Regions from separate parts of the Homo sapiens genome. Here region 1 is linked to region 2. Evidence: fine-mapped expression QTL. A gene starts in region 2. The other region holds a variant in brackets. All regions are shown on one strand. Distances are from middle to middle.

Evidence for each region.
Region 1: its variant is fine-mapped to the expression of CLPP in cerebellum (GTEx, PIP 0.92).

The regions. Positions count from the first base shown.
Region 1 is chr19:6,331,945-6,348,028 of GRCh38, forward strand. ACER1 (alkaline ceramidase 1) reads right to left here and starts at 1,668. Exons shown (of 6, transcript NM_133492.3): 1 at 1,515-1,668. The coding sequence starts at 1,607. The variant CA/C (reference allele first, on the strand shown) is at 8,221.
Region 2 is chr19:6,353,293-6,366,424 of GRCh38, forward strand. It overlaps CLPP (caseinolytic mitochondrial matrix peptidase proteolytic subunit), which reads left to right and starts at 8,239. Exons shown (of 6, transcript NM_006012.4): 1 at 8,239-8,480; 2 at 8,577-8,648; 3 at 9,154-9,250; 4 at 11,160-11,347; 5 at 12,966-13,071. The coding sequence starts at 8,283. It also overlaps a transcript of ACER1 not described here. RefSeq lists a silencer at 8,486-8,715 and an enhancer at 8,914-9,871.

The DNA.
Region 1 (16,084 bases), 20 kb before region 2:
CGTGATCATTTGTGCATTCCTATTTTTTTTTTTTTTTTTGAGACGAAGTCTCGCTCTTGTCCCTCAGGCTGGAGTGCAATGGTGCGATCTCGGCTCATTGAAACCTCCGCCTCCTGGGTTCAAGCCATTCTCTTGCCTCAGCCTCCCAAGCAGCTGGGATTACAGGTGCCTGCCACCAAACCTGGCTAATTTTTGTATTTTTAGTAGAGATGGGGTTTCACCATGTTGGCCAGGCTGGTCTCGAACTCCTGACCTCAGGTGATCCACTCACCTTGGCCTCGCAAAGTGCTGTGATTACAGGCGTGAGCCTCCGCGCCCGGCCTTTTTTTTTTTTTTTTTTTTTTGAGACAGGGTCTCCCTCTGTCACCCAGGCTGGAGTGCAGTGGTATGACCTCAGCTCACTGCATCCTCCACTTCTTGGGTTCAAGAAATCCTCCCCCCTCAGCCTCCCAAGTAGCTGGAACTACAAGCACACACCACCACACCCAGCTAATTTTTAAAAACTTTTTGTAGAGACAGGGTCTTGCTATGTTGCCCAGGCTGGTCTGGAACTCCTGGGCTCAAGCGATCTTCCTGCCTCTGCGTTCCAAATTGCTGGGGTTACAGGCATGAGCCATGGTGCTAGGTACATCCATGATTTTTTAGCACTTCCCATGTGGTGTTTTAACAGGGAAAGAGAAGACCACCTCAGAATGTCCAGAACTGAGGAGTTTCTCAGGAGGTGGGACTTTTTTTCTTCTTTTTTTGAGACAGTCTCGCTTTTTCACCCAGGCTGGAGTGCAGTGGCACAATCTCAGCTCACTGCAACCTCCGCCTCCTGGGTTCAAGCGATTCTCATGCCGTAGCCTCCTGAGTAGCTTGGACTACAGATGCCTGACACCGTACCCAGCTAATTTTTTATTTTAGTAGAGATGGGCTTTCACCACGTTGCCCAGGGCGATCTCCAACTCCTGAGCTCAGGCAATCCACCCACCTTGGCCTTCCAAAGTGCTAGGATTACAGACGTGAGCCACCGCGCCCAGCCAAGAGGTGAAACTTTTTAAATACTGAAACCAGGATAGTCCCAGGCACACTGGGACAAGTTGGTCAGTGGGTACAGCTGCAAACAAGACAGACACAATCACCTCTTCCAGGAAGCCTTTCCTGATTGGCCCACCCCCTCTAGCTCAGGGGCACCCTCTGCCTCCCCCTACCACAGCTGCCTCTGTGCCCTCCAAGAAGGCACCATCGCTCCCGGTTGCAAATGCCTGCAGTCACATCAGAGTTAGCTTAGGGAAGGCAGAGACCGGTTCTTTTCCTGGCCACCAATGTGTCTCCAAAACCTACCACAGAGCTTGGCATCAAGTAAAGACAAGTAAATGAATGAAAGCTGGCACTCTTTGGCTAACAGATGAGAAAACTAGGGCTGAGACAGGTGAACCACTCCAGCAAGATTCCCCAGTAAGGCTGTATGGGGAGGAACCGGGATTCGAACCGGCATCTGGCGAGACTCCTTCACACACCCACGCACTCACCGTGTTGTAGAACTCGGCCACCAGCTCCGAGTACTGGAAGTTGCTCTCACACCAGTCCACCTCGGAGCTCTGATAGGCGAAGATGCTAGGCATCTTGTCTCAGTGGCCACCACCAGCCGGCTGCGCCCGGCAGAGAGAAGGCGAGCTTGGGAAGGCTGGGCCCTGATGAGGCGGGGAGAGGACAGCCCGGTGCCCCGCGGCAGGCAGACTGGGAGGAAAAACCTGCTGGGCCGCTCCCCAGTTGCACCAGGGCAGCCTGGCTGTGCAGTGACAGCAGCCCTGAGCATAAGCCGTGGGACTGGCACTGTCCAGGCAGGGCAGGGGGCAGAAGTAGGCAGGGAAGAGGCCTCCCATCCAGATTACCCAGGAATAGGAATCGGGGTGGGGGCAGTGGAGGGAACTGTTTTTATCTTTTATGTATGTATGTATTTATTTATTAGAGTCAGGGCCTTGCTCTGTTGCTCAGGCTGGGGTACAGTGGCATCATCATAGCTCACCGCAGCCTCAAACTCCCAGGCTCAAGCAATACTCCTGCCTCAGCCTCTGAAGTAGCCAGGACCACAGGCACATGCTGCCACCATGCCTAGCTAATTGTTTTTTTTTTTGGAGACAGAGTCGCTCTGTTGCCCAGGCTGGAGTGCAGTGGCATGATCTCAGCTCACTGCAAGCTCTGCCTCCCGTGTTCACGCCATTCTCCCGCCTCAGCCTCCCGAGTAGCTGGGACTACAGGCGCCCACCGCCACGACCGGCTAATTTTTTGTATTTTTAATAGAGATGGAGTTTCACTGTGTTAGCCAGGATGGTCTCGATCTCCTGACCTCGTGATCCACCTGCCTTGGCCTCCCAAAGTGCTGGGATTATAGGTGTGCGTGAGCCACCGTGCCCGGCCTTTTTTTTTAAAATTGAGATGCAGTCTGGCTCTGTCACCCAGGCTGGAGTGTAGTGGCGCAATGTCAGCTCACTGCAACCTCCACCTCCTGGGTTCAAGCGATTCTCCTACCTCAGCCTCCCAAGTAGCTGGGATGACTGGCACCTGCCACCATGCCCAGCTAATTTTTTTTGTATTTTAGTAGAGATAGGATTTCACCATGTTGGTCAAGCTGGTCTCGAACTCCTGACCTCAGGTGATCTGCCCACCTTGGCCTCCCAAGGTGCCGGGATTATACGCATGAGCCACCTCACCTGGCCTGAGTTCCTCTACTTTAAGCTGTGTGACCTTGGGCAAGTGAATTTACCTCTCTGATCCTCTGTTTGCTCACCTGTCATATGGAGACGATGGTGACAGAGCCAACTGTAACAAAGGAAGACAGAGATAAAGCATGTACAAAGGCTTAGCCCACTGCCTATGCTAGAGTAGGCACTTGATGGATGGTAATGGGTTTTCTTTTTTTTTTTGAGATGGAGTCTTGCTCTGTCCCAAAGTGCTGGGATTACAGGGTTTTCTTACTGAAGCTGACCTTGAACTTTAAGTCAACTTTGTGGGAATAATAATAATTATTATTATTATAATAAAAGAGCCTGGCCTTAGCAAGCGGTTAGCAAGTGTGCATAACAATAATAATATAATTATTTATTATATAATAGCAATATTATATTAAAATATAAAATTATTATATTAAAAATACTATTGTTATATAATATTTTAAATATTTTAGTATATTATTTTAATGTGATTAATATAATTTAATATAATAATTAATATTATATATTATATAATTTTTCTTTTTTTAAGTGCTTGATTTTCAGTATTATCTCATTTAACGTTCTTTTTTTTTTTTTTTTTTGAGATGGAGCCTCACTCTGTCTCCCAGGCTGGAGTGCAGTGGCATGATCTTGGCTCACTGCAACCTCCACCTCCCTAGTTCAAGCAATTCTCCTGCCTCAGCCTCCTGAGTAACTGGGACTACAGGCACCTGCCACCATGCCCAGCTAATTTTTGTATTTTTAGTAGAGACGGGGTTTCACCATATTGACCAGGCTGGCCTCAAACTCCTGACCTTGTGATCTGCCCGTCTCGACTTCCCAAAGTGCTGGGATTACAGGCGTGAGCCACTGTGCCCGGCCTTCATTTAATGTTCTTAACAATCCTACCCCGGGTGCTGTGGCTCACGCCTGTAATCCTAGTGCTTTGGGAGACCAAGGCGGGAGGATCACAAGGTCAGGAGATTGAGACCATCCTGGCTAACACAGTGAAACCCCATTTCTACTAAAAATACAAAAAAGGTAGCTGGGCGTGATGGTGGGTGCCCATAGTCCCAGCTACTCAGGAGGCTGAGGCAGGAGAATGGCATGAACCCAGGAGACGGAGCTTGCAGCGAGCCAAAATTGCACCACTGCACTCCAGCCTGGGTGACAGAGAAAGACTCTGTCTAAAAAAAAAAGAAAAAATCCTAAGCGCCAGGAACTATTGTTATCCCTTTTCTTTTTCTTTTTTTTCTTTTTCTTTTCTTTTTTTTTTTGAAATAGAGTTTCACTCTTGTCACCCAGGCTGGAGTGCAATGGCATGATCTCAGCTCACTGCAACCTCTGCCTCCCAGGTTCCAGCGATTCCCCTGCCTCAGCCTCCCAAGTAGCTGGATTTACAGGCACCCGCCAGCATGCCCGGCTAATTTTTGTATTTTTAGTAGAGACGGGGTTTCACCATGTTGGCCAGGCTAGTCTCGAACTCGTGACTTCTGGTGATCCACCTGTCTCGGCTTCCCAAAGTGCTGGGATTACAGGCTTGAGCCACTGTGCCTGGCCTCTTTTTCTCTTTTGAGACAGGGTCTTGCTCTGTTGCCCAAGCTGGAGTGCAGTGGCGCAATCATAGTTCAATGCAGCCTTGCTTGATCTCCTGAGCTCATGCGATCCTATCTCCTGCTAGTAATCACTAGCAAGGAAACTAAAGCCCAGAGAAGTTAAGGAACTTACCATAGGTCACACAGTTAGGAAGTGATAGAGACAGGCAAGGAACACCACCTCTATGATGCCTCAGTTTCCTCACCTGTAAGGTGGTGAAAATGATAATGGTACTGCCCTCTCAAGCCTGTTGTGAAGAGTTAGTGAGCTGACACGATGTTTCCATAAAAAGATAAATTGTGGGCTGGGCACGGTGGCTCATGCCTGTAATCCCAGCACTTTAGGAAGCCAAGGCAGGCGGATCACGAGGTCAGGAGATCAAGACCATCCTGGTTAACATGGTGAAACCCCGTCTCTACTAAAAATATAAAAACCTAGCCAGGCATGGTGGCGGGCGCCTGTAGTCCCAGCTACTTGGGAGGCTGAGGCAGGAAAATCGCTTGAACCTGGGAGGTGGAGGTAGTAGTGAGCCGAGATCACGCCACTGCACTTCAGCCCGGGCGACAGATCGAGACCCCGACTCAAAAAAAAAAAAAAAAAAGAAAAAGAAAGATAAATTGTGGTGCTATGTTGCCCTGCATTCCAAATCACTGAACTGGCCGGGCATGGTGGCTCACCCCTGTAATCCCAGCACTCTGGGAGGCTGAGGCAGGTGGAGCACTTGAGGTCAGGAGTTCAAGACTAGCCTGGCCAAAATGGTGAAACCCCGTCTCTACTAAAAATACAAAAATTAGCCTGGTGTGGTGGCACGCGCCTGTAATCTCAGCTACTCAGGAGACTGAGGCAGGAGAATAGCTTGAACCCAGAAAACGGAGGTTGCAGTGAGCCGAGATTGCACCACTGCACTCCAGCCTGGGCGACAGGGTGAGACTCCCTCTCAAAAAAAAAAAAAAAATCACTGTGGTGTCTGAAAGTAATCAACTTTTTCAATTTCCAATATTTGGAGAAGAGAGGCTCAGTCAGTGCTAATATGTTCTATGTCTCTTAACACTTAATGACTTTGACAAAAAAGAAAAGAAAAGCCCTTCATTAGGCAACAATATTCTGTTAGAATTTAGTAACATGATTTGTTTACATTGTATTTATTTTTTGATAAGCTTGTATTCATGGTAAGCCAAATCTACTTTCCATTCACGGTAGGGTTACAAAGTTTCCTTTTTTTTTCTTTTTTTTTTTGAGATGGCGTTTGCTCTGTCCCCCAGGCTGGAGTGCAATGGCATGATCTCGGCTCACTGCAACCTCCACCTCCCAGGTTCAAACGATTCTCTTGCCTGAGCCTTCTGAGTAGCTGGGATTACAGGCGTGGACCACCCTGCCTGGCCAAAGTTTTCTTTTTCTTTTTCTTTTCTTTTCTTTCTTTCTTTCTTTTTTTTTTTTTTTTTTTTTTTTTTTTTTTTGAGATGGAGTCTTGCTCTGTCGCCCAGGCTGGAGTGCAGTGGCTCGATCTTGGCTCACTGCAAGCTCCGCCTCCTGGGTTCATGCCATTCTCCTGCCTCAGCCTCCCGAGTAGCTGGGACTGCAGGCACCCACCACCAACGCCTGGCTAATTTTTTTGTATTTTTAGTAGGGACAGGGTTTCACCATGTTAGCCAGGATGGTCTCGATCTCCCGACCTCGTGATCCACCCACCTCGGCCTCCCAAAGTGCTGGGACTACAGGCGTGAGCCACCGCGCCCAGCCCCAGAATTTTCTTTTTAAAATAATATTTTGGCCCAGTGCAGTGGCTTACACCTCTAATTCCACCGCTGCACTCTAACCTGGGCAAAAAGAGGGAAACCCTGTCTCAAAAAAAAATAGTTAATTAAATAAAATAAAAATAAAATAATAAAATAAATATGTATTTTTTAAGAGATGGAGTCTTGCTCCGTTTCCTAGGCTGGAGGGCAGTGGTAAAATCCTAGCTCACAGCAATGTCAATTTCCTGGGCTCAAGCAATCTTCTCACCTTCGCCTCCCAAGTTGCTGGGAGTACAGGTATGAGCTACTGTGCCCTGGCCAAAATAAATGTAAGTGTTACAATTGTGGTTGTGTTTGCACAGATCTATACATGTGATATTATTGCATAGATTTGCTCCCATTTTTCTGAGAAAATGAAAAGAAAATTGTCTAACACATGAATGCATGGGAAAAGCTGTTGAAATCTGAATATGGTCTATAGGTCATATTTATATCACCTTTCTGGTTGTGAAAATGTATAGTTATAAAAGAGGTACCACTGGGAGAAACTGGATGAAGATTACCTGGGATTCTTCTATATTATTATTGCAGGTTCCTGCAAGTTTATAATTATTCCATTTTTTTTAATGTGTTTGATAGAGGGTCTCACTCTGCTGCCAGGCTTGAGTGCAGTGGTGCAATCACAGGCCACTGCAGCCTCAACCTCCTGGGCTCAAGTGATCCTCACACCTTAGCCTCCCAAGTAGCTGGGACTACAGGCCAGGCAAATTTTTTCTATTTTTTGTAGAGACAGGTTCTCACTATGTCTCCCAGACTGCTCTCTAATTCCCGAGCTCAAGCGATCCTTCCACCTCAGCCTCCCAAAGTGCTAGAATTACATGTGTGAGCCACCGCACCTGGCCTTAAAATCTTTTTTTTTTTTTAAGACCGAGTCTCTTCCTGTCATCCAGGCTAGAGTGCAATGGTGCAATCTCGGCTCACTGCAACCTCCGCCTCCTGGGTTCAAATGATTCTCCTGCTTCAGCCTCCCGATAGCTGGGATTACAGGCGCCCACCACCACGTCGGGCTAATTTTTACATTTTTAGTAGAGATGGGGTTTCAGCATGTTAGCCAGGCTGGTTTGGAACTCCTGACCTCAGGTGATCCGCCTGCCTCAGCCTCCCAAAGTGCTGAGATTACAGGCATGAGCCACCGCACCCAGCCTAAAAATCTCTTTTTATAAAGGGATTGATTTAGATTTTTAATTAATACATGAATGGATAAACACAATGTGTGTGGTTCATCCATACCGTGGAATATTATTCAGCCCTGAAAAAGGAAGGAAATTCTGATACAGGCAACAACGTGGATGGACTTTGAGGACATCAAGCTGGGTGAAATAAGCCAGACATAAAAGGACAAATCCTGTGTGATCCCACTCCTAGGAGGTCCCCAAAGTCCTCAGAGTCACAGAGACAGGAAGTAGAACGGGGGGTATGAGGGGCTGGGGAGGGGGATAGGGAGTGAGTGTTTCTTGGGGACAGAGTTTCAGTTTGGAAAGATGAGAAAGTTCTGGAGGGGATGGTGGTGATGGCTGCATAGACATGCGAATGTGCTTAATGCCGCTGAACTATGCATTTGATGATTAAAATGATCAGTTTCGTGTTATGTATCTTTTACCACAATTTTACAAAGTAATGATTTAGGGTTTTTGTTTTTGTTTTTTGTTTTTTGAGATGGAGTCTCTCTCTGTTGCCCAGGCTGGAGTGCAGTGGTGCGATCTCGGCTCACTGCAAGCTCCGCCTCCCGGGTTCACGCCATTCTCCTGCCTCAGCCTCCCGATGGGACTACAGGCGCCCGCCACCACACCCGGCTAAGTTTTTTTTGTATTTTTAGTAGAGACGGGGTTTCACCGTGTTAGCCAGGATGGTCTTGATCTCCTGACCTCATGATCCGCCCGCCTCAGCCTCCTAAAGTGCTGGGATTACAGGCGTGAGCCACCACGCCTGGCCTGATTTAGGTTTTTAAAAGAGGGGTTTGGGGCTGGGCGTGGTGGCTCACACATGTAATCCCAGCATTTTGGGAGACTGAGGCAGGTGGATCACTTGAGGTCAGGGTTCAAGACCAGCCTGGCCAACATGGTGAGACACCGTCTCTACTAAAAATAAAAAAAATAAAATTAGCCAGGCGTGGTGGTGCGTGCCTGTAATCC[CA/C]GCTACTCGGGAGGCTGAGGTACGAGAATCACTTGAGCCTGGGAGGTGGAGGTTGTAGTCAGCCAAGATCGCGCCACTACACTCCAGCCTGGGCATAGAGCAAGACTCTGTCTCCAAAAAAAGAAAGAAGGAAGGAAGGAAGGAAGGAAGGAAGGAAGGAAGGAAGGAAGGAAGGAAGGAAGGAAGGAAGGAAGGAAGGAAGGAAGGAAGAAAAACAGAACTAAAGCTTGACCTGACTCTGTATAGCACCCCTCCACAAACATACACCATTTAGCTACAGCCCTAGCCCCCAAATCCGCTTCCCAGGTGGACCAGGAGGGCAAACAGACACCACCACTGCCACCCCAGCTCCCCAGTAGCGACCCTGACTCCTTCCCCATGGAGTAATTTTGAAACAGTCTCTGCTCTGTGTGTGGGTGGAGCAGATGGTCTCTGAGGCCCCTTTCTGCTCATAGCTGGAACAGGACCCAGCTGCTGAGATCCTGAATCTTGGCGAGGGTTTAATAGCAGGCAGTAAGGTAGTGACTGGCACCCACGCCCAGCCCAGACCGGAGAACTTGAGTGATCATGGTGCTGACTAGGGAGGACAGAGCAGCCAGGAAGGTGGGTGGGAGCCGGGGGAGAGCTCTTCCCCCGCTAGGGGGAGAGAAGGGGCTAGAGAGAGGGTGACAAACAGAGGCGTGTGAGCTCTCAGCGGTTATTGTAACAAATGCCACCAATGTAATGGCTTAGAACAGCACACACTTATCATCTTACCTTTCTACAGGTCAGGACTCTGAAATGAGTCTTATAGGCTAAAGGTGTCATCACAGCTGTGTTCCTGGTGGAGGCTCCAGGAGAGACCTCGTTTCCTGCCCCGTCCAGTGTCTAGAGGCAACCCATGTCCTGTTCTCCACCTTCACAGCCACAGTGCAGCCTCTTCCAGTCTCTCTCTGACTTTGTTCTTTTCTTTTGAGACGGAGTCTTGCTCTGTTGCCCAGGCTGGAGTGCACTGGCGCGATCTCGGCTCACTGTAACCTCCACCTCCAGGGTTCAAGCAATTCTTGTGGCAGGAGAATCGCTTGAACCCAGGAGGTGGAGGTTGCAGTGAGCCAAGATTTCGCCACTGCAAACCAGCCTGGGCAACAGAGCGAGACTCCATCTCAAAAAAAACAACAACAAAAAACCAGTCTAGGCAACATAGGGGACCCTGTTTCTACAAAACATTAAAAAGTTAGCCAGTGGGGGTACACACGTGTGGTCTTAACTTCTCAGGAAGCTGAGATGGGAAGATTGCTTGAGCCTAAAGGTCGAAGTTGCAGTGAGCTATGTGTGCACCACTGCACTCCAACCTGGGCCACAGAGCAAGACCTTGTCTCAAAAAAAAAAAAAAGAAAAAAAAAGAAAAAGAAAAAGAAAAAAGGAACTATACCCATCTTAGCATTGGGCTTTTTTTTGTTTTCTTTTGTTTTGTTTTGTTTTGTTTTTCTTTTTGTTTTGAGATGGAGTCTTGCTCTGTCACCTAGGCTGGAGTACAATGGTGCAGCAGCCTCCACTCACCACAACCTCTGACTACTGGGTTCAAGCGATTCTCCTACCCCAGCCTCCCAAATAGCTGGGATTACAGGCACCCGCCACCATGCCCGGCTAATTTTTTTTATTTTTAGTAGAGACGCGGGTTTCACCAGGTTGGCCAGGCTGGTCTTGAACTCCTGACCTCATAATCTGCCTGCCTTGGCCTCCCAAAGTGCTAGGATTACAGGCGTGAGCCACTGCACCCAGCAGTGTTGGTTTTAATACTTGCTTTCTATTTATTTAGTAGCTTTCCATGTAGTGGAGCAATATAAAATTTCCTTTTGAAGTAAAGATATGCATTAATATTTGGAAAGTGTTTTTGGAAAATGAACTTGTTTAAAGACAGTGTTTAAGTCAATAATGGTTACCGTACAGATGGGGAAAATTTTAGTCTAACAATGCCCAAAGTCACAAAGGACATTATTGGGTAATTGGTGAAATTTGCACATGGAATATAAAGTAGATAATAGTATTGTGTCCATATTTATTTTCTGAAGTAGATAAATGAATTCTGGTTGTGTAAGAGAGTATCCTAGTTCTTTTTTTTTTTTTTTTTTTTTAAGATGGAGTTTCACTCTGTTGCCCAGGCTGGAGTGCAGTGGCTTGATCTTGGCTCACTGCAATTTCTGTTTGAGTTCGAGACCAGCCTGGGCAACATAGGCAGACTGTGTCTCTAAAAAAAAATAATAATAATCCATTTTAAAAACAAACTATTTCAGACCGGGAGTGGTGGCTCACACCTGTAATCCCAGCACTTTGGGAGGCTGAGGCGGGCGGATCACGAGGTCAGGAGATTGAGACCATCCTGGCTAACATGGTGAAACCCCGTCTCTACTAAAAATACAAAAAATTAGCCAGGCGTGGTGGCGGGCGCCTGTAGTCCCAGTTACTCAGGAGGCTGAGGCAGGAGAATGGCGTGAACCCAGGAGGTGGAGCTTGCAGTGAGCCAAGATCGTGCCACTGCACTCCAGTCTGAGCAACAGAGCAAGACTCAATCTCAAAAAAATAAATAAATAAATACAATAAAATAAAAACAAACTATTTCAAGATAAAAAGTTGTGGGTTTGTTTGTTTTGAGACGGAGTTTTGCTCTTGTTGCCCAGGCTGGAGTCCAATGGCATGATCTCGGCTCACTGCAACCTCCACCTCCCGAGATCAAGTGATTCTCCTGCCTCATCCTCCCGAATAGCTGGGATTACAGGCACCCGCCACTGTGCCCGGCTAATTTTGTATCTTTAGTAGAGACAGGGTTTCTCCATGTTGGTCAGGCTGGTCTCGAACTCCCGACCTCAGGTGATCCGCCCACCTTGGCCTCCCAAAGTGCTGGGATTACAGGCGTGAGTCACCGCACCCAGCCAAAAGTTTTTTCTTTAACTTGCCGATTCCGAGTACTGGTGAGGATGGGAAGTGGGGGAGTGGTGGAAATATGAAGAGGCCAACCACTTTGGAAAATAATTTGACATTACCTGAAGCATTACTGGGTACAGTAGTTCAACTGTTAGAACAAGACAATTCCACAAATATCAGTGTCCTAAAAGTTTACATCTCACATAAGCAAAGAGTATGGAGGGTGAAGCTGTCCCAGAAGGCTCAGGCAAGTGGGAATTTAGCAATCCAGGCCCCTTCCTTCCTTCTCATGATGCCTCCATCCCAGCATGTGGCCTCCATCCCAACACGTGACCTCCATCTCAACATGTGGCCTCCACTCCCAATATGTGGCCTCCACTTTCAACATGTGGCCTCCATACCCATCAAGTGGCATCCATCTCAACGTGGGGCCTCCACTCACAAAATGTGGGCTTCCTCCCAACTTGTGGCTCTAAATCCCAAAATGTGCCCTTTGCTCCCAACATGTGGCCTCCATACCCATCATGTGGCCCCCACCTCAACATGTGGCCTCCACTAACAAAATGTGGGCTTCCTCCCAACTTGTGGCTCTCAATCCCAACATGGCTTTGGTGTACCTCTATTGGTCAGAACTAGTCACATGACCTCCACTAGATGAAAGGGTTGCTGGGAAATGTAATCTGTAGCACAGCAGCCACTTCCTGGTATCCACTTTACCCTGTGGGAAGGGAGCCTGAATCTTTAAACCACAACAGGCTGCCTCCATCACATTCAGTAAAGGTGCAAATGAACATGTCCTACAACCAGCAACTCATCTCCTGGATTTATGTCCCCCTGAGAAACTCCCACAAATGGACCCAGGATTCTGGTACAAGATTATTCAGAGCAGCCCTGCCTGCAATAGCAAAACCATGGAACTATTCACAAACATCCCTGAGTTAAAGACTTGATAAGTAGGCCGGGCATGGCAGCTCATGCCTGTAATCCCAGGAGCTCAAGACAGGTGGATCACCTGATGTCAGGAGTTCGAGACCAGCCTAGTCAACATAGTAAAACCCTGTCTCTACTAAAAATACAAAATATTAGCCAGGCGACGGGAGGCTGAGGCAGGAGAATGGCCCGAACCCAGGAGGTGGAGCTTGCAGTGAGCCGAGATTGCGCCACTGCACTCCAGCCTGGGCGACAGAGCGAGACTCCGTCTAAAAATATATATATAAATATATATATATTAGCCAGGCATGGTGGGGCACCTTTAATTCCAGCTACTCAGGAGGCTGAGGCATGAGAAGCGCTTGAACCCAGGAGGCAGAGGTTGCAGTGAGCCAAGATTGTGCCATTGCACTCCATCTTGGGCAACAAGAGCAAAACTCCATCTCAATAAATAAATAAATTTATTTATTTATTAAATAAAGACTCGTTAAGTAAATAGTGGATTCTCCTGCCTCAGCCTCCCTAGTAGCTCGGACTACAGGCACCCACAACCATACCTGGCTAATTTATTGTATTTTTAGTAGAGACAAGGTTTCACCATGTTGGCCAGGCTGGTCCTGAACTCCTGACCTCAAGTGATCCGCCTGCCTCAGCCTCCTAAAGTGCTGGGATTACAAGCGTGAGCCACCGCACCTGGCCTGTGTGGGTATAAGTTTTCAATGCATCTAGGTAAATACAAGGGGGCACAATTGTTGGATTATTTTGTTGTTTTTTTCTTTAAACCATATATGTATGTTATATATCCTCTTGTGAAGATATATTTCACAACAATCAATTTATTTTATTTTATTTTATTTTATTTTATTTATTTATTTGTTTATTTTTTTGAGATGGAGTCTCGTTCTGTCATCCAGGCTGGAGTGCAGTGGCACGATCTCGGCTCACTGCAACCTCCGCCTCCCGGGTTCACACCATTCTCCTGCCTCAGCCTTCCAAGTATCTGGGACTACAGGTGCCCGCCACCACACCTGGCTAATTTTTTGTATTTTTAGTAGAGACGGGGTTTCACCACGTTGGCCAGGATGGTCTTGATCTCCTGGCTGGTCAAGGCTGGTCTCAAACTCCTGACCTCAGGTGATCCACTGGCCTCTGCCACCCAAAGTGCTGGGATTACAGGCGTGAGCCACCGTGCCCGGCCTCCGTGTGTTGTTTGTAAATGAAGTTATGTGGATAAATTTTTATTGGCACACGGTCACACCCATTTGTTTGTAAGTTGTCTATGGCTACTTTTATGCTATAATGCAGCAATCTGCAAGCTTTTTGTCACCCAGGACCAGTTTTGTGCAAGACAATTTTATCACGGAGGTGTGGAATGGTTTCAGGATGATTCAAGCACATTACATTTATTGTTCACTATTTCTATTAGTATTACACTGTAATATATAATGAACTAATTATACAGCTCACATAATGTAGAATCAGGGAAAGCCCTCCCCTTGTTTTCCTGAAACTAGACTGTCCCAGCTGGGGGTGATGGGAGACAGTGACAGATCATCAGGTATTAGATTCTTTTTTTTTTTTTTTTTCAAATGGAGTCTCACTCTGTCACCCAGGCTGGAGTGCAGTGGTACGATCTCAGCTCACTGAAATCTCGGCCTCCTGGGTTCAAGCGATTCTCTTGCCTCAGCCTCCTGAGTCGCTGGGATTACAGGCGCGCACGACCATGCCCAGCTAATTTTTGTATTTTTTGTAAAGACAGGGTTTTACCATGTTGCCCAGACTGGTCTCCAACTCCTGACCTCAGATGATCCACCTGCCTTGGCCTCCCAAAGTGCTGGGATGACAGGCATGAGCCACCATGCCTGGCATCATCCAGCTAATTTTATTATAATAATAATAATAATTATTATTATTGGAAATGGGGTCTCCCTATATTGCCCAGGCTGCTTTCAAACACCCAGGCTCAAGTGATCCTCCCACCTCAGCCTCCCAAGCTGCTGGGATTCCAGGCGTGAGCCACTGTGCCTGACCATCACATCATCTTCCAAGGTGGGTTAATTCCATGACTTACTAGAAGAAGGGTTGCCAGATAAAATACAGGACACCCAGTTAAATCAGAATTTCAGATTAACGATGGATAAGTTTTTGGCATAAATATGTTCCAAATATTGCATATGATCGGATTATCCTAAAAATTATTCTTCATGTATCTGAAATTCAAATTTAAATGAGCCTCCTGTATTTTTATGTGCTAAATCTGGAGACTCTAATCTGGAAGTATCTCTTCAACTGAGCCTGTCTCATTCCTTCCTCCAAAAAAAAGTTCGAGAAAAGTTTTCATTAAGTGGCATTATGTCATTTCTACTGCCTCCTCTACCTAAATCCAATAACCTCAAATGGGTATTCTAAGGTTATTGGTTATTAACCTTTTATTTCACTCATTCTTTTCTCCTCCTCCTCCTCCTCCCCCTCCTCTTCCTCCTCCTTCTTCTTCTCCTTCTTCTTCTTCTTTTTTTTCTTTTCTTTTTTTTTTTTTTTGAGACAGGGTCTTGCTCTGTCACCCAGGCTGGAGTGCAGTGCTGCAATCATAGCTCACTGCAGCCTCAATCTCCTGGCTGGAGCAATCATCACACCTTGGCCTCCCAAAATGCTAGGATAATCCTGGGGCCTCTCTCCTTGGCTTCTAGATGGCTGTCCACCAGCCATCTACATCTGGTGGTCAGCCACCACCCCCAGCCGCTGTTTTCCATCAGTCCATTCTAAGGTTCAAAGGTTTAAAATCTGTCCATCTAGCTCAGAACTCAGATGTATTTTCTTCAACATCACAGCGGAGATTACTCTGGTCCAGCGGGGAGGAGGTTCTCTGCCCACCCCCTTCTTTCCTTCCTTCTTGAAGGCTGAGACCGAGGAGGGAAAAAAGGAAAGATAAAGAGGGATCTTACTGTTATGGCTTGAATTGTATTCTCTAAAAAGATGTGTTGCAGACAGGGCATGGTGACTCACATCTATAATCTCCGCACTTTGGGAGGCCAAGGAGGGAGTATCGCTTGAGGTCAGGAGTTTGAGACCACCCTGGCCAACACCACGAGTCCCTGTCTCTACAAAAAAAAAAAATATATATATATATATATATATAAAATAATAATAAAAGATAAGTTACAGACCCCCTCGTCCCTCAGAATGTGACCTTGCTTGGAAATAGTCTCTTTTTCTTTTCTTTTCTTTTTCTTTTTTTTTTTTTTGAGACAGAATCTCACTTTGTCATCCAGACTGGAGTACAGTGGTGCAATCATAGCTCACTGCAGCCTCAACCTCCTGGGTTCAAGCCATCCTCCCACCTCAGCCTCGTTAGTGGTGACGACAGGTGTGCACCACCACACTCAGCTAATGTTTCTGAATTTTTTGTAGAGATGAGGTTTCGCCATGTTACCCAAGCTGGCCTTGAACTCTTGGGCTTAGGTGATCTGCCCACCATGGCCTCCCAAAGTGCTGGGATTATAGGTACGAGCCACTGTGTGGAAACAGGGTCTTTAGAAAGGTAATGGAGTTAAAATGATGGCCGGGCGTGGTGGTTCACGCCTGTTATCCCAGCACTTTGGGAGGCCGAAGTGGGTGGATTACCTGGCGTCAGGAGTTCAAGACCAGCCTGACCAACATGGCAAAAGCCTGTCTCTACTAAAAATACAAAAATTAGCCGGGCGTGGTGGCAGGTGCCTGTAATTCCGGCTACTCGGGAGGCTGAGGCAGGAGAATCGCTTGAACCCAGGAGGTGGAGGCTGCAGTGAGTCCAGATCATGCCATTGCACTCCAGCCCGGAAAAGAAGAGCAAATCTAAACAACAACAACAACAAATAAGTTATTAGGGCAGGTCCTTGTCCTCCATGACTAGTGTCCTTATAAAAAGGGAAAATGGCTAGGCACAGTGGCTCATGCCTGTAATCCCAGCACGTTGGGAGGCCAAGGTGGGGGGCGGATCACCTGAGGTTGGGAGTTTGAGACCAGCCTGGCCTCCCAACGTGCTGGGATTGCAGG
Region 2 (13,132 bases):
CTGTACTCTAGTCTGAGTGACAAGGCAAGACTCTACTTCAAAAAAAAAAGGAGACAAACTCACCTTCAACTCTTTCCCTCTGTTGACATCTCAGCGCTTTGGGAGGCCAAGGTAAGAGGGTTGCTTGACTCCAGGAATTTGAAACCAGCCTGGACAGCATAGTGAGACTCTGCCTCTACAAAATAAAAATAAATAAATAAAGTTGTTTTTCTTCTATTTCAGATCACTATCCACTTTAAGTCGTGGTTCTTGGCTGGGCATGGTGGCTCACACCTGTAATCCCAGCACTTTGGGAGGCAGAGGCAGGTGGATCACCTGAGGTCAGGAGTTCAAGACCAGCTTGACCAACATGCTGAAACCCCATCTCTACTAAAAATACAAAATTAGCCTGGCGTGGTGGCACGTGCATGTAATCCCAGCTACTTGGGAGGCTGAGGCAGGAGAATTGCTTGAACCTGCAAGGGAGAGGTGGCAGTGAGCTCAGATCACACCATTGCACTCCGGCCTAGGCAACAAGAGCGAAACCCCATCTCATAAAATAAAATAAATACAATAAAATAATAAAATAAAATAAAATAAATAAAATAAAATAAAACAGTGGTTCTCAGGCCAGCTGTGATGGCTCACACCTGTAATCTCAGCACTTTGGGAGGCCGAGGTGGGCAAATCACCTGAGGTCAGGAGTTTGAGACCAGCCTGGCCAACACGGTGGAACCCCATCTCTACTAAAAATACAAAAATTAGCCAGGCATGGTGGTTCATGCCTGTAGTCCCAGCTACTCAGGAGTTTGAGGCAGGAGAATCACTTGAACCCAGGAGGTGGAGGCTGCAGTGAGCCAAGATCACACCACTGCACCCCAGCCTGGACAACAGAGCAAGAGACCATCTCAAAAATAAAATAAAATAAAATAAAATAAATAAGTAAATAAATAAATAAATAGTGATTCTCAGCTGGGAGCGACTCTGCCCCCTGGAGGATACTTGGCAATGTCTGAGATACTTTTTACTGTTAGGGGGGCATTTTTTTTAATTGATGGGGGTAGGGGTGGGGGTGCTCCTGTTATCGAGTGGGTGGAGGCCAGAGATGCTGCTCAGCACCCTACAGTGGCCTGGGTGGCCTTTTGTACTTTCAAAGAATTCTCCAACTCAGATTTTCAATCGTGCCAAAGTTGAAAAACCCTACTTTAAGTGAAATGCAATAGAACAGGATCAAATAGAATAGAAAATATCAAAGGACATTGCTCAAATAATAAGTTTCATTTTATAAGACTTTTGTATTTTTGTGTACTCAGACACTATGTAAGATATGTTTCTCCTTGTGAGCCCTAATCAAAAAGGTTTAATGGGCTGAGTGCAGTGGCTCACGCCTGTAATCCCAGCACTTTGGGAGGCCAAGGCAGGAGGATTGCTCAAGCTCAGGAATTTGAGACCAGCCTCAGCAACATATCGATACCTTGTCTCTACAACAAAAACTTTAAAAACAGGAGAAGTGTCACTCCCTCTCCCTCTCCCTCTCCCCCCTCTCCCTTTCCCCACGGTCTCCCTCTCCCTCTCTTTCCACGGTCTCCCACTGATGCCGAGCCGAAGCTGGACTGTACTGCTGCCATCTCGGCTCACTGCAGCCTCCCTGCCTGATTCTCCTGCCTCAGCCTGCCGAGTGCCTGTGATTGCAGGCGCGCGCCACCACGCCTGACTGGTTTTCGTATTTTTTTGGTGGAGACGGGGTTTCGCTGTGTTGGCCGGGCTGGTCTCCAGCTCCTAAGTGCGAGTGATCCGCCAGCCTCGGCCTCCAGAGGTGCCGGGATTGCAGACGGAGTCTGGTTCACTCAGTGCTCAATGGTGCCCAGGCTGGAGTGCAGTGGCGTGATCTCGGCTTGCTACAACCTCCACCTCCCAGCCGCCTGCCTTGGCCTCCCAAAGTGCCGAGATTGCAGCCTCTGCCCGGCCGCCACCCTGTCTGGGAAGTGAGGAGCGTCTCTGCCTGGCCGCCCATCGTCTGGGACGTGAGGAGCCCCTCTGCCTGGCTACCCAGTCTGGAAAGTGAGGAGCGTCTCTGCCTGGCCACCACCCCATCTAGGAAGTGAGGAGCGCCTCTTCCCGGCCGCGACCCCATCTGGGAGGTGAGGAGCGTCTCTGCCCAGCCGCCCCGTCTGAGAAGTGAGGAGACCCTCCGCCTGGCAACCGCCCCATATGAGAAGTGAGGAGCCCCTCTGCCCAGCAGCCACCCCGTCTGGGAAATGAGGAGCGTCTCTGCCCGACAGCCACCCCACCCGGGAGGGAGGTGGGGGTCAGCCCCGCCAGGCCAGCCGCCCCGTCCGGGAGGGAGGTGGGGGGGGTCAGCCCCCCGCCCGGCCAGCCGCCCCGTCCGGGAGGTGAGGGGCGCCTCTGCCCGGCCACCCCTACTGGGAAGTGAGGAGCCCCTCTGCCCGGCCAGCCGCCCCGTCCAGGAGGGAGGTGGGGGGGTCAGCCCCCCACCCGGCCAGCCGCCCCGTCCGGGAGGGAGGTGGGGGGTTCAGCCCCCCGCCCGGCCAGCCGCTCCATCCGGGAGGGAGGTGGGGGGGTCAGCCCCCCGCCCGGCCAGCCGCCTCGGTCCGGGAGGTGAGGGGCGCCTCTGCCCGGCCACCCCTACTGGGAAGTGAGGAGCCCCTCTGCCCAGCCACCACCCCGTCTGGGAGGTGTACCCAATAGCTCATTGAGAACGGGCCATGATGACAATGGCGGTTTGGTGGAATAGAAAGGGGGGAAAGGCGGGGAAAGGATTGAGAAATCGGATGGTTGCCATGTCTGTGTAGAAAGAGGTAGACACGGGAGACTTTTCATTTTGTTCTGTACTAAGAAAAATTCTTCTGCCTTGGGATCCTGTTGATCGGTGACCTTACCCCCAACCCTGTGCTCTCTGAAACATGTGCTGTGTCCACTCAGGGTTAAATGGATTAAGGGCGGTGCAAGATGTGCTTTGTTAAACAGATGCTTGAAGGCAGCATGCTGGTTAAGAGTCATCACCACTCCCTAATCTCAAGTACCCAGGGACACAAACACTGCGGAAGGCCGCAGGGTCCTCTGCCTAGGAAAACCAGAGACCCTTGTTCACTTGTTTATCTGCTGACCCTCCCTCCACTATTGTCCTATGACCCTGCCAAATCCCCCTCTGCGAGAAACACCCAAGAATGATCAATAAAAAAATAAATAAAATAAATAAATAAATAAATAGACTGGACACCCTACTACCCATACCCAGTTTAAGATACAGATTACAACCAACACCGTTAAAGCCCTTTTGCATGCCCTTCTCCATCCCAGCCCCCTCCTAAATTTTGTTTATAATGATCTCGCTTTTCTTCATAATTTTACCTCCAAAATATGCATCTGTAAACAATATGCTGTTTTTGCAAGCTTTTGAACATTATATAAAATAAATCATACTGCATGTAAAAAAAAAAAAAAACTTTAAAAACATTAGCAGGTCCTGTTGGCGTGTGCCTGTGGTCCCAGCTACTTGGTAGACTGAGGTTGGGAGGATTCACCTGAGTCCAGAAGTATGAGGCTGCAGTGAGCTATGCACCAGAGCCAAACAAGATAGCAGAATGTTCTGCAGACAATAGAAAAAGAAACAAATGAATTAATGCAATTGTTTATGATGAAAGTCACACCAAGATGAAAATTAAACAAGGCAAATGTTCTAGAGTGCCTGGGATATTAGCAAAGGTGTTCAGGGAAGGCTTCTCTCAGGGATGACATCTGAGCTGAGACTTTTTTTTTTTTTTTTTTTTGAGATGGAGTCTCGCTCTGTCGCCCAGGCTGGAGTGCAATGGTGTAATCTTGGCTCACTGCAACTTCTGCCTCCCGGGTTCAAGCGATTCTCCTGCCTCAGTCTCTCCCAAGTAGCTGGGACTACAGGCGCAGGCCACCATGCCTGGCTAATTTTTGTATTTTTAGTTGAGACGGGGTTTCACCACGTTGGTCAGGCTGGTCTTGAACTCCTGACCTCAGGTGAGCCGCCCGCCTCCGCCTCCCAAAGTACTGGGATTACGGCCGTGAGCCACTCTGCCTGGCTTGACTCCAAGCAGAGTAAAGCAGAGGCTTTGTGGCTGGATTGAGCTTGATGTGTTTGGGGTGTGAAAAGCAGACCAGGGTAGGGAAGGAGATAAGGGGGGTCAGCAGGGGGGACGGGGAACCGCAGTTCAATTTAGGTTTCTCAGCCAAGCGCGGTGGTTCACACCTGTAATCTGAGGACTTTGGGAGGCTGACGCACATGGATCATTTGAGGTCAGGAGTTCGAGACCAGCCTGGCCAACATGGTGAAACCCCATCTCTACTAAAAATACAAAACTTATCTGGGCGTGATGGTGGGTGCCAGCTACTCAGGAGGTCGAGGCCCGAGAATCGCTTGAACCGGAGAGGCAGAGGCTTCAGTGAGCCGAGATCGCTTCACTGCACTCCAGCCTGGATGACAGAGTGAGACCCCGTCTCAAAAAAAAAAAAAAATTAGCTTTTTTGGGGATCTCTTAGAGTGAAGAATAGTGAAGAAGAGACAGTAGGTCACAGTGACGTGGGTGATACTGGAGCACCTGTTAGGGAGCTATTAACAATGAAGAAGGTGAAAAGCAGTTGCAATGGGGAGAAGTGAAGCTGATTAAACAAAGGGAGACAGGGAACACATCTAAGAGGACCCCGCCATCCCACGTCAGAGGCAGGGCAGGCAGGGGGTGCAGGGCAGCGTCCGGAGGAGTGAAGGAGTGGAGGAGTGGAGGAGTGGCTGCAGGGATGGTGGCAGCTGTTGTCCTGGCCCTTCTCCCCAGGGCGGGGGCAGGAGCTGCAGCCCTGGGGCAACCGGCCGGGCAGGGCCACCCACCTGACTCACAGCAGAAACTGGGACAGCAGCTGCCCTCCTACCTCCTCAATCCCAGCTGGAAATAAAAGTAAGATTCCAGACCTCTGGCCAACACCCTCTGAGCCCAAATGCCGGCTTTCCACCGTGAGGCCCTGCCTGCCAGCGCTGGCTGCCATGTGGGCTTTCTGCTTTGCGGACCTGCAAGGTATTCTCCTAACTCTGTCACCTTCAACTCCCTCCCTCTGTCTTACTCCTGATTCTACAAAACTGGGAGTGTCTGTGTCCCCTTCTATCTCCCCATCGGACTGCAGTCCCCTCGAGGTTACAGAGGGCACAAAATTATTCTTATCTAGGGTACCCAGCATCAAGTTTAAGAGTCCAGTGTCCCAGCTACTTGGGAGGCCGAGGCAGGAGAATGGCGTGAACCTGGGAGGCGGAGCTTGCAGTGAGCCGAGACCGCACCACTGCACTCCAGCCTGGGCGACAGAGCGAGACTCCATCTCAAAAAAAAAAAAAAAAGAGTCCAGTGGCCGGGCGCAGTGGCTCACGCCTGTAATCCCAGCACTTTGGGAGGCTGAGGCGGGTGGATCACCTGAGGTCGCGAGTTCGAGACTAGCCTGACCAACATGGAGAAACCCCGTCTCTACTTAAAATACAAAATTAGCTGGGCGTGGTGGTGGGCGCCTGTAATCCCAGCTACTCGGGAGGCTAAGGCAGAAGAATTGCTTGAACCTGGGAGGCGGAGGTTGTGGTGAGCCGAGATTGTGCCATTGCACTCCAGCCTGGGCAACAAGAGCAAAACTCTGTCTCAAAAAAAAAAAAAAAAAGAGTCCAGCTGGGCATGATGGTTCATGTCTCAGCAGTTTGGAAGGCTGAGGCAGGAGGATCACTTAAGTCCAGGAGTTCAAGACCAGCCTGGGCAACATAGGGAGACCCTGTCTCTACAAAAAATTTTAAAATTAGCCAGATGTGGTGACATGCACCTCTAGTCCTAGCTACTTGGGAGGCTGAGGTGAGAGGATAGCTTGAGCCCAGAGGTTCAAGGCTGCAGTGAGCTCTGATCACACCACTGTGCTCCAGCCTGGGTGACAGAGCGAGACACTGACTCAAAACAAAAAAAGAGTCTACCGCTTACTGCTTGGTAAACTTCTTATACATCAAAATCCACTTCAGGAGTCTCTCTGAATCTGCTGTGATTTTTTTTTTTTTTTTGAGATAGAGTTTTGCTCTTGTTGCCCAGGCTGGAGTACAGTGGTGTGATCTCGGCTCTCTGCAACCTCTGCCTCCTGGGTTCAAGTGATTCTCCTGACTCAGCCTCCCAAGTAGCTGGGATTACAGGCATTCACCACCATGCCGAGATAATTTTGTATTTTTAATAGAGACGGAGTTTCACTGTGTTGGTCAGGCTGGTCTCAAACCCCTGTCCTTAGGTGATCCACATGTCTTGGGCTCCCAAAGTGCTGGGATTGCAGGCATGAGCCACCACAACACCTCGCCTGAATCTGCTGTGATTCGAAGGACTGCCCCGGGAAAAAAAAGAAAAAAACACTTCAAGTAGACTCCCATGTGGGAGGACCTGAAGACTTCTCAGACTTCCATGGTCCCTGATCTAACACAGCAATAAATCATTCAAACTGAGCACTTTTTACACATTTTTGGACCCTTTCTGAGGACTTTCTGCACAAACCTAGGAGGTAGGTTATCATTATCCCCACTCTGCAGATGCCTCCAAAGCCCTCTACCTACCTCCTTTATCACCTCTTCATCTCTTGGTTCAATGTGTATTTAATGAGCACCTACTGTGTGTCAGGCACTATTCTAGACTTTGGGGATGAAGCAGTGGGCACCTCTTAGATAGTGACATTGAACTGAATGATGAAAAAGAATCTGGCTTGAGAAGGTGTGGCAAAAAAGAGAAGTCCCAACATTACCAGCAATCTTCCTACTTCCACCATTTTGCCCATTCTTTTTCCTCTGCTGGAAATGCCTTTCCCCAGCTAACAAACTCCTACTTATCCTGCAAAGCCCAATTCCAATACCTGCTTCTCCTAGGAATGCTTTCCGGTCTGATCTCCAGGAAGAATCCACAACACCCTTCTCTGGGCTCCCACAATCTACTCCACAGGTGGCCAAAAAATGAATGAGGAGGTCTCAGTAGAAGTCGGCCACACCAGGCTGGAAGCTCTTCAAGGCCAAGACCCAGGCTAAGTCCTCTCTGGGACCCCTCTTCCAAGATGAGCTGTGGGAACACTGCAGCTTTTTTTTTTTTTTTTGAGACGGTGTCTGGCTCTGTCGCCCAGGCTGGAGTGCAGAGGCGCCATCTCAGCTCACTGCAAGCTCCACCTCCCAGGTTCACACCATTTTCCTGCCTCAGTCTCCTGAGTAGCTGGGACTACAGGTGCCCGTCACCTCGCCCGGCTAATTTTTTGTATTTTTAGTAGAGACGCGGTTTCACCGTGTTAGCCAGGATGGTTTCGATCTCCTGACCTCGTGATCCGCCCACCTCAGCCTCCCAAAGTGCTAAGATTACAGGCGTGAGCCACTGTGCCCGGCCCTGCAGCTATTTTTAAAATAAGGAATAAGTGGGGTGTGGTGGCTCATGCCTGTAGTCCCAGCACTTTGGGAGGCAAAGGTGGGAGGATCACTTGAGGCCAGGAGTTTGAGACCAGCCTGGGCGACATAGTAAGACCCCATCTCTAATACATATATATATATATTTGCCAGATGTGGTAGCACACAACTGTAGTCCCAGCTACTCTGGAGAGCAAGGTGGGAGGGAGGGTTGCTTGGGCCCAGAAATTTGAGGCCACATTGAGCTAGGATGGCGCCACTGCACTCCAGCCTGGGCCACAGAGTGAGATTCTGTCTCAAAAAAATAAAAATAAATAAAGCAGAAACAGTAGAAAACGAAGACGAGGCCGGGCGCGGTGGCTCACGCCTGTAATCCCAGTACTTTGGGAGGCCGAGGTGGGAAGATCACGAGGTCAGGAGTTCAAGACCAGCCTGGCCAAGGTGAAACCCATCTCTACTAAAAATAACAAAATTAACCGGGTGCAGTGGTGTGCATCTGTAATCCCAGCTACTGGGGCAGCTGAGCCAGGAGAATGGCTTGAACCCAGAAGGCAGAGGTTGCAGTGACCCAACATCGTGCCACCGCACTCCAGCCTGGGTGACAGAGCAAGACTCCGTCTCAAAAAAAAAAAAAAAAGAAGACGAATTGGTCGGTAAGGGGACTCGAACTGGAGACTCTAAAACTTCTCCAGCCCTGCCCACTCAATTTACTTCATTGGCTCCTCCCTTTCAGGCTCCGTCCCTATCCCCGCCTCACCCTTAATGGCGCCCGCCCAGACTCCTGGAAGTGAGCGGCCTAGCGAGCGAGCTCCCAGGCGCAAAGCACGCCGGAAGCTGTAGTTCCGCCATCGGACGGAAGCCGACCGGGGCGTGCGGAGGGATGTGGCCCGGAATATTGGTAGGGGGGGCCCGGGTGGCGTCATGCAGGTACCCCGCGCTGGGGCCTCGCCTCGCCGCTCACTTTCCAGCGCAGCGGCCGCCGCAGCGGACACTCCAGAACGGCCTGGCCCTGCAGCGGTGCCTGCACGCGACGGCGACCCGGGCTCTCCCGCTCATTCCCATCGTGGTGGAGCAGACGGTACGGCGGCCGGGCGGGGACACGGTTCGGGGGCTCCGGGCTGGGTGGGGATCGGCTGGCTGCCCCGGCCCCTCACCTCCATCTTTCTACCCCCAGGGTCGCGGCGAGCGCGCCTATGACATCTACTCGCGGCTGCTGCGGGAGCGCATCGTGTGCGTCATGGGCCCGGTGAGCGCCCCGCGCCGGGACCCTCCCCAGGACTCTCCCAAGCGCCTGCCGACACTCCCTGCGCCCCTCCTTCCCTGGCCCCAGACTTTCCCTCAGGCTCCGCTCCCCTTCTAACCCCCTTCCCTCCCCTTCTGACTCCCCTCCTGGCTCCCGGTCCCCCAACCCGCTCCTCACCCCTTCTCTGCTCCTCGGCTCTTAATCTCCGACTTCCTTCCTGACACCTGGCACCGCTCCCCTCATTCCTACGCTCAAGACTCTCCCCAGCCATTCTCACCCCTTCCTTTCCTGTGTCCCTAGCCCCCTGACTCCCCCCTTCCTGTGCTCCAAACCCCCTGGGTCCTCTCCACTACTCTCTCCCCATCCCCTTCTGGGGCCTAAATTCTTCCCCATCCCTTTTACTTTGGGCTCTGGTCCCCCTTCCTGGTTCCCTGACCCATCCCCAGCCTCCCTTAAAACTCTCTCCCCACCCCGAATCTGGGGACACCCCTGCCCTCTCCACCTGCAGATCGATGACAGCGTTGCCAGCCTTGTTATCGCACAGCTCCTCTTCCTGCAATCCGAGAGCAACAAGAAGCCCATCCACATGTACATCAACAGCCCTGGTGAGCAGGGTCTTTCCTGGGTGCCAGGGGCACTCGTCAGGGCACACGGGTGACTCAGGGGACCAGAATCCCGGGTCAGGGATGTTCTCTCTCTGGGAAAGGGTGCAGAGCGTCAGAGTTCCAGAAGTGGCTTTAAACCACCAAAAGGTGCCTGTTGCTGGCTTTTGAGCCTCGGTTCACAAGTCAGGATGTGGCCTCTTTGATCCTGCACATACTGTTCTGCCAACCTGACCCGGCTGACATTTAAAAATTGGTAGATTTTAGGCCGGGCACAGTGGCTCACACCGGTAATCCCAACACTTTGGGAGGCTGAGGCGGGCGGATTGCTCGAGCTCAGGAGTTCAAGACCAGCCTGGGTAACGTAGTGAGACCCCATCTCTACAAAAAAAGTACAAAGATTAGCCGGGCAATGTGGCGTGTGCCTGTAGTCCCAGCAACTCGGAAGGCTGAGGGAGAAGGATCACTTGAGCCCAGGAGGTCGAGGCTGTAGTGAGCCCATCTCAAAAATAATCATAATTGGTAGATTTTTTCCCCCTCCCCAAAAAAAGTAGTCAATTTTGATTGAGCACTTATGATGGAGGCATTTTTTTTTTTTTTTATTGAGATGGAGTCTCGTTCTGTCACCCAGGCTGGAGTGCAGTGTTGCAATCTCAGCTCACTGCAACCTCTGCCTCCTTGGGTTCAAGCGATTCTCCAGCTTCAGCCTCTCAAGTAGCTGGGGATTACAGGCATGTGCCACCATGCCTGTCTAATTTTTTGTATTTCGTAGAGATGATGTTTCACCATGTTAGGCTGGTCTTGAACTCCTGACCTCAAGTGATCCACCCGCCTCAGCCTCCCAAAGTGCTGGGATTACAGGCATGAGCCACCACGCCTGGCCTGATTTCTAGTTTCTCTTGGAAATTTAGTAGATCTGATCCCATGGTCCACTGGCACATCTGGCAAGAGTCAGCTGACTGTAAAGCAAGCGCTCTGCCTTTTGCCTGCACCTGGGCCGTGTCACTTGTTTTTGTCACCTCCCAACCCCTGGAAGCATTTGTGTTTGTGAACCCTGCTTTAAAGAGCTGCTTCTAGACCGGACGCAGTGGCTTACGCTTGTCATTCCAGCACTTTGGGAGGCTGAAGTGGGCTGATCACTTGAGGTCAGGAGTTTGAGAGCAGCCTGGCCAACGTGGTGAAATCCCATCTCTACTAAAAATACAAAAATTAGCCGGGCATGGTGGTGTACTTGTAATCCAGCTACTCGGGAGGCTGAGGCAGGAGAATTGCATAAACCCGGGAGGTGGAGGTTGCAGTGAGCTGAGATCGCGCTACTGCACTCCAGCCTACGTGACAGTGAGACTCAGTCTCAAAAAAAAAAAAATAGCTGCTTCTGGCTGGGCATGGTGGCTCACACGTGTAATCCCAACACTTTGGGAGGATTGCTTGAGCCCAGGAGTTCGAGATCAGCCTGGGCAACATAGTGAAAGCAGTGAAACCCAGTCTTAATTTTTTTTTTTTTTTTTTGAGATGGAGTCTCGTTCTGTCGCCCAGGCTGGAGTGCGGTGGCGCTATCTCGGCTCACTGCAACCTCCGCCTCCCGGGTTCACGCCATTCTGCTGCCTCAGCCTCCGGAATAGCTGGGACTACAGGCACCCGCCACCACGCCCGGCTAATTTTTTGTATATTTAGTAGAGACGGGGTTTCACTGTGTTAGCCAGGATGGTCTTGATTTCCTGACCTTGTGATCCGCCTGCCTCAGCCTCCCAAAGTGCTGGGATTGCAGGCATGAGCCACAGCGCCCAGTCATATTAATTTTTAAAAAAGGAGGGGGGCTGCATCTGTTCCACCCTCCCCAGGTTTAGGAGATGGAATAGGGAAAGGGTCGGGGGGAGCTGGTCCAGCCCCTCACTTGCTCCCCCGCCCACAGGTGGTGTGGTGACCGCGGGCCTGGCCATCTACGACACGATGCAGTACATCCTCAACCCGATCTGCACCTGGTGCGTGGGCCAGGCCGCCAGCATGGGCTCCCTGCTTCTCGCCGCCGGCACCCCAGGCATGCGCCACTCGCTCCCCAACTCCCGTATCATGATCCACCAGCCCTCAGGAGGCGCCCGGGTGAGTGCCAGACACGCGAGCTGCTGTTGGGAATCAGGACAGGGTCTAGACAGAAGGACTGACTGGGCGGAAGTCAAGCGTGGGAGGGGATGTTTTTTTTTTTTTTTGAGATGGAGTCTCACTTTGTCGCCCAGGCTGGAGTGCAGTGGTGCGATCTCGGCTCACTGCAAGCTCCGCCTCCTGGGTTCACGCCATTCTTCTGCCTGAGCCTCCTGAGTAGCTGGGACTACAGGCGCCCGCCACCACGCTCGGCTTTTTGTATTTTTAGTGGAGACGGGGTTTCACCATGTTAGCCAGGATGGTCTCGATCTCCTGACCTCGTGATCCGCCCACATTGGCCTCCCAAAGTGCTGGAATTACAGGCGTGAGCCACCGCGCTGGGCCAGCCGGGAGTGGATGTCTTAAAATGTGCAGGCCAGGCTGGGTGTGGTGGCTCACGCCTGTAATCCTAGCACTTCGGGAGACAGAGGCGGGAGGATCACGTGAGCTCAGGAGTTCGAGGCCAGCCAGGGGAACATAATGAGACCTTGTCTCTATTAAAGAAAAAAAAAAAAAAGGCCAGGCATGGTGGCTCACGCCTGTAAATCTTGACACTTTGGGAAGCTGGAGCAGGTGGATCATTTGAGGTCAGGAATTCTAAACCAGCCTGGCCAACATGATGAAACCCCGTCTCTACTAAAAATACAAAAATTAGCTGGGCATGGTGGTGCGTGCCCATAATCCCAGCTGTTTTGGGAGGCTGAGATAGGAGAATCACTTGAACCCAGGAGGTGGAAGTGAGCTGAGATTGCGCCACTGCACTCAAGCCTGGATGACAGAGCAAGACTCTGTCTCAAAACAACAAAGGGAAAAAAAGAAAATGCACTGAGGAGTTGTTTGCTGTCTCTTGAGAATTAGCTTCAGCTGGGCACAGTGGCTCACATCTGTAATCCCAGCACTTTGGGAGGCCAAGGCAGGAGGATCACTTGAGGCCAAGAGTTTAAGACCAGCCTGGGCAATGGTGAGACCCCATCTCTACCAAATATTTAAAATGACTCGGGCATGGTTATGCTTGCCTCTGGTCCCAGCTACTCAGGAGGCTGAGGTGGGAGGATTGCTTGAGCCTGTGAGGTGAAGGCTGCAATGAGCTGTCTTGTACCACTGCATTCCAGCCCCAGCAACAGAGGAAGACCCTGTCTCAAAAAAAAAAAAAGGCGGCCAGGCATGGTGGCTCATGCCTGTAATCCCAGCACTTTGGGAGGCCGAGACAGGAGGATCACTTGAGGCCGGGAGTTTGAGACCAGTCTGGGCAACATAGCAAGACCCCATCTCTAAAAAAAAAAAACAAAAAACAAACAAAAAAAAGGCTTAGCTAATGCTGAGACAGAGAGACACTGTTCCTCCCAGTCTGCAAGGCTTCAGATGCAGAAAATAACATATACTTAATCCAGTCAGAAAGCCTTCCTGGTAGTGGCAAGACTGAAGCAGGATATCGGGGGATTTACACAACCCCAGCCCACCAGCCTCAAACCGGAAGCCCAAAGCCCAGGGAAGCTCCTGAGTGCCACCTCCAGCCTCCCTGTGAGGGGCTGACGCCGATACCAACCTTTACCCCCTCACTCCCTTGGACGTCCCTCAGGGCCAAGCCACAGACATTGCCATCCAGGCAGAGGAGATCATGAAGCTCAAGAAGCAGCTCTATAACATCTACGCCAAGCACACCAAACAGAGCCTGCAGGTGATCGGTAAGCACCCTCCTTTATTTCATCCTGGTCCGTGCACAGACGGACCAGGCGTTGCTCTAAG